Linked DNA regions of Homo sapiens: region 1 is linked to region 2. The links come from fine-mapping of genetic effects on gene expression. A gene starts in region 2. The other region holds a variant in brackets. All regions are shown on one strand. Distances are between the middles of the regions.

Region 1 (2,916 bases), 25 kb after region 2:
GGAGGCTGAGGCAGGAGAATCGCTTGAACCCGGGAGGCGGAGGTTGCAGTGAGCCAAGATCGCTCCATTGTACTGCAGCCCGGGCAACAAGAGCGAAACTCCATCTCAAACAAACAAACAAAACAAACAAACAAACAAACAAACAAATTCAACTTTTATTTTAGATTCAGACTCCATGTGTAGGTTTGTTACATGGGTTTATTGTATGATGCTGAGGTTAGGGGTACAAATGATCTGTCACCCAGGTAGTGAGCACAGTACCCACTAGGTACCCATCACTCCTGTCTCACACCTGCATTGAGGCCTTGGGCCTCAAAAGTCAAGTATTTGGTATCTTTGTTATGTGGTTCCTTTGAGACTACTACCCTTTTTTGCCTGACTGGGAAAAAAAAAAATCACACATCTGTTAACACTTCCAATATCAAAGACTCTGGAAAGTGCTAGTCAAGGGTCAGAGCTAGTCCTAGGTTCTGAAATGCCTTTGACAATAATATGGAATTGCTAGTGTCCAAAAAAAAAAAAACAAACCTCACAAAATCAAATAATCCAAAGGCTCTATAGTAAGTACAAAGCACAAATCCTTCACCTGGACTTGAAGGTCTTCTTCTTCATGGCCCATCCCAACTTTCTTTAGAAACTTCTCAGTTTCTGATAGTTGGAGCACAGAGGGCAACAGGGTGAAAAAAAATGAGGCTGGGGAGGCAATAGAGTACCAGCAATAGGTGGGAGAGTACATTTGGTTTGATGTAGTCAACTGGTTGGTACTCACTTCTTCAATCCTTTCCTGTCTCGAATCCTGAGAGGAGGGTTGGACTTTTTTCATGCCTTCTATAGCATCTGATATGGTTTTCCTGTGTCCCCACCCAAATCTCATCTGGAATTATAGCTCCCATAATTCCCACATGTTGTGGGAGGGACCTAGTGGGAGATCATTGACTCATGGGGGTGGTTTTCCCCATATTGTTCCCTGATAGTGAATAAGTCTCATGAGATCTGATGGTTTTATAAGGGGAAACCCCTTTCATTTGGTACTCATTCTCTCTTCCCTGCCACCAAGGAAGATGTGCCTTTTGCCTTCCACTGTGATTGTGAGGCTTCCCCAGCCACGTGAAACTGTGAGTCCACTAAACCTCTTTTTCTTTATAAATTACCCAGTTTTGGGTATGTCTTTATCAGCAGTGTGAAAACAGACTAATACAGTATCTAGCTTGGGGCTTTGCATAAAGTAAGCACTCAATTAATTCTTGTGTAGTAGTTGACCAAAGATAGG[C/A]GTTAATAAAGGTTTAGGAACCTGGTTCTATGTAGAGATACTTTGAAAATTAAAGCATGCACTTCCAACCACGTGATCTCTAAGTTTATGGCTCTGCAGTTGCTATTTTATAGCTAAAACAAAATACTCATTAAAAACTAATAGGAATGTGTAAAATCAGCACGGGCAAACCTCAACTGGCAGGCAGGAAAATCTGGCTCCTCGAAGCCTGCCTGGGTCCATGGTCCAAACATGCTTTGGGTGGAGATCCAGAGGTGAAAAGTCATTTGCTTCTGGGAACAAGAAACTGAATCAAACCCAAAGTAGCAAGTTTGAGCTCTCAAGGGCAAAATGACATTGCATGCCTCAAATGGCTGTGGGTTGCCAGCTTAAATTATTGCACAAACACATTCACGCAATGGGAGTTGAGAGAGGCAGCCAGTCCTAGCTGGAGTAATTCGGGGAAAGGTGTAGGATGTGAGGCTTGAGCTTGGTTGGGCCACAGCCACGTCAGGGGAAACCAGGGCTTCCCAGAACCCATCCTGTCTGCTCTTCAGATGCCCAATGGCCTCCTGACTCTCCTTCCTTCCAGCCACTCTCTCTCCCACTTCCCCCTGCCTGTGCCCACCACTTAGCTGGCTGCACCTTCTCAACACACTTTCTGTCACCTCCTTACACACACATGGGCCATCTCTAAGCTGAACACTCTCTTCTGTACTAAACAGCTTTGTCAATTCATTTCTCAGCAATTTTTTCTTTTTTTTTTTTTTTGAGATGGAGTCTCACTCTGTCGCCCAGACTGGAGTGGAGTGGTAAGATCTCAGCTCAGTGCAACCTCCACCTCCTGGGATCAAGCGATTCTTCTGCCTCAGCTGTAGCTGGGGTTACAGGCACCCGCCACCATGCCCAGCTAATTTTTGTATTTTTAGTAGAGACAGGGTTTCACCATGTTGGCCAGGATGGTCTCAATCTCTTGACCTCGTGATCTGCCTGACTTGGCCTCCCAAAGTGCTGGGATTACAGGTGTGAGCCACCATACCCAGCTTCTCAGCAATTTAGAAATGCTAACTGAAAATCTTGTTTTCTGATTAAACACCATCCTTAGATATTTTCTCCTTTTACCCCACATCTCTCCAGATCCTTCTCCTGACCCCATCCCATCCATCCTTCCATTGTTTTATTTGGGAGTTGAATGAGTTTTCTAGAAACATGCCATAGAAAGAAATTCCTCAGAGGCAATGCAATAAATTATCTGAGTTATGCATGAGTGATGGAGCCTTTTGGTTGGAGACATAAAGAATGCTGATCATGGAAAAACAAAATTCAAGAGGCCAAATTTTACAGGGAGCAATTAGTATTAAATGAGAACATGTCACAGGCACTGGGGCATTGGAAACTGGCTGCCCCAGCCTCCTTTTTGTAAGCTGAGTTTACTAAATGGAACATAATGATATGTAACCAAAATGCTGAAAGACCATTTCTTTGCTAAGGAGATCCAGCCAACAAACACAGTGGAAAATAGGAAAATAGCAGTGATACTTTTCACCCTGGGAATTTTTTTTTTTTTTTTTTTTTTTTAGATAGAGTCTTGCTCTGTCGCCCAGGCTGGAGTGCAGTGGCGCGATCTCGGCTCACTGCAGCCTCCGCCTCCCGGGTTTAAGCGATTC
Region 2 (2,916 bases):
TCGGGAGGCTGAGGCAGGAGAATGGCGTGAACCCAGGAGGCAGAGGTTGCAGTGAGCCGAGATCGTGCCACTGCACTCCAGCCTGGGCGACACAACAAGACTCCATCTCAAAATAAATAAATAAATAAATAAAATAACAATTTTCATTTAATGACTTTGTTCTTCATTCCCCCTGCTCTTGGGGGAGAATCCTACAAGAGCAAAAAAAAAAAGTATAAAATACGAAAAACGGCTTTTTCCATGTATGTAAATGTGATCAATAAAATACTCTGAAGCATAAGAAAATAATATGTCAGGATAAAAATCTGTGAAGGAAGTAGGAATAGTAATAAGAGTTCCAGGAGATAAAAAGAAAGATGTAAAATTCCTGAATGCCAATCAGCTTTTTCATAAATTTTAAAATGGATGATAGGGGCTACCAAATTGTCGATGTTACATTCCACTGGATCCATTTTAAAGTGTGAAGTCACAGTAGGTTTTAAATATCAATATTTACAATAAGCCAGAAACCACAGTTTTTGCAGCTACTTAACTTTTGAACTTCATTTTTTAAATGTGCTGGGGGTAGACAGTGGATAGCTTTACAAAATTCTGTTAGGGGTACATACATAAACAAGTAAGGCATGGGCCCTACCTGTCTGACGACACTCTCTCTGCTTTTTCCACTTCTCTAAGTTGGCCTCTAAACAGCACCTTCTCAGCACTTGGGTAATAATGACATCAAAAAGCAATGAAGGCCAGGTGCGGTGGCTCCTGTCTGTAATCCCAGCACTTTGGGAAGCTGAGGCAGGTGGATCATTTGAGGTCAGGAGTTCGAGACCAGCCTGGCCAACATGGTGAAACCATGTCTCTACTAAAATTACAAAAAAAATGAGCTGGGAGTGACGCTGCATGCCTGTAATCCCAGCTACTCAGGAAGCTGAGGCATGAGAATCACTTGAACCCCCGGGGAGGCGGAGGTTGCAGTGAGCCAAGATCGCACCACTGCACTCCAGCCTGGGTGACAGAGCAAGACTCTGTCTTAAAAAAAAAAAAAAAAAAAAAAAAGCAAAGAAGAAGTAAGCAACTCCCCCTCCTCCCATATCCTAGGAAGTACAGAGAAAACTATTCTATATGGGTTGAGCCCCTATTATGGGGCAGGTCCTATTTGGGGCATTGAATTCATCTGTCTTTATTGCTCTAATAGGGACACTATCACTCCCATTTTACTGATGAGGAAATGGAGGCTCAGAGGAACACATAAGCTGTTTATGGACTTACAGCTGCTACAGCTTACAGCTGGTAAGCACCAGAGCCAGGATTCAGCCCAGCTCTGGCTTAATCCAAAGCCAGTGCTTCTCCATGATATCATCCATGCTGCCTCCAGAAATCAGAGCAGAATTAGGGGCCACCTTGGTTTTATTTTCTTTCTCTGATAAAAGTGAAGTAGGGCACAAGACCCTGCCCAGTTCTTTTCCTACAGGCCTTTGAACATTCCCCAGCAAAGTGAGAAGGGAAAGCTCAGGGCTACCTCCAGTGCTAGCGCAGAGGGCGGGAGTATCAGCTGGCTGGCTGGAGCTGGCCAAGCCCCTCCTCTCCTCCTCCTGCTTCCCCCTCCATCCAGGCTCCACCGGGAACCTGTCCCAGACGCCTACCCCGCCTGAGCCAGAGGAAGGGAGGAAAACAATAGCAAAAACCAGGACCCTTCGGACTTGCCGCTGAATGGGGATTTTCGTCGGATGTTGAGTTTACCTGGAATGCCCCGGTGTTATTTTGGGAAGGCAGACATCCCACGGAAACAATGAAGTGGAAAAGAAAACAGCTAAAGCAAAATCTAGAGCCCAGTTTTTGCCAAACCAGCCCCACGTGGGCTGGGCAGGCTCTGGAAGCCCAAGTCAGGCCGATGAAGAGCGGCTGAGGCCGTGGGGATCTGGTTTACCAGGAGGGCACATGGAGGATGCAAGAAAAGGAAGAGCCGTATTCAAGTCCCCACTTCAGTGATGAGGCAGAAAGACCCTGCGCCTGACCACGTGGGAACAGCCTGCAGTGAGCGGTGACGCCGCCTGGCTTGAGCTAAGTGCTGGGCTCCACCATTCATTGGCTGAGTGACCTTAGGCAAGTCACTTAACCTCTCAGAGCTTCCTTATCCTCATGTAGAAGATGGAGGTGGGGCGCGGTGGCTCACGCCTGTAATCCCAACACTTTGGGAGGCCGAGGCGGGTGGATCACCTGAGGTCAGGGGTTCAAGACCAGCCTGGGCAACATGGCAAAACCCCATCTCTACAAAAAATACAAAAATTAGCCCGACGTGATGGTGCGTGCCTGCAGTCCCAGCTACTTGGCAGGGCGAGGTGGGAGGATCACTTCAGCCGGGGAGGCAGAGGCTGCAGTGAGGCATGATTGCACCACTGCATTCCAGCCTGGTCAATAGAGCGGGACCCTGTCTCAAAAAAAAAAAAAAAAAAAAAAAAAGGCAGTGGGAGTGGGAGTGATTTGCTTTAAAGGAACAGAGGAAAGATAAAATATATCTCTATATAATTATATACATTATATATAATATATTTACATATTTTATATATATAAATATATATATATATGTCCTTAGATATAGGTGTATATTTTCATATATAATTGATGAGAATTATAGATTATAGAGAGCAGTCATCTGGGAAAAAGTTTACAAACTGCTATCAGGCACTGGAGAGAATTTACTCAGGAGAAAAGGCCTAGGGAAGAAGGAAAGAGATAAAGTCCACTGAGCTAGCAGGGGCTGAAAAGGGAGAAGATCCTTCGAAGCTCCCTGTGCATGGTTTGACTTTGGTTTGCAGCACCAGCTCCTCCCATGCATAATATTACATAGTATTCTGGCTCTCTATGGCCCCTGCAAGACATAATTTATTTTTAGGGATTTATTGAGAATCTGTTGAATGCATTGCA

Alleles and levels. Alleles are on the strand shown, and positions count from the first base shown. SD is a standard deviation of normalised expression in the study named.
In carriers of allele A in region 1, the expression in tibial artery of the gene that starts at base 1,625 in region 2 tends to be lower than with C alone (small effect, 0.37 SD a copy in GTEx).

What was found. PIP is the estimated chance that this variant, and not a neighbour inherited with it, causes the effect.
Region 1: its variant is fine-mapped to the expression of LINC01936 in tibial artery (GTEx, PIP 0.98).

The regions. Positions count from the first base shown.
Region 1 is chr2:30,370,479-30,373,394 of GRCh38, forward strand. No RefSeq gene overlaps it. Among named protein-coding and RNA genes, the nearest start is that of LINC01936, 25 kb to the left of the region's middle. The variant C/A (reference allele first, on the strand shown) is at 1,271.
Region 2 is chr2:30,345,022-30,347,937 of GRCh38, forward strand. It overlaps LINC01936 (long intergenic non-protein coding RNA 1936), which reads left to right and starts at 1,625. Exons shown (of 2, transcript NR_122048.1): 1 at 1,625-2,094.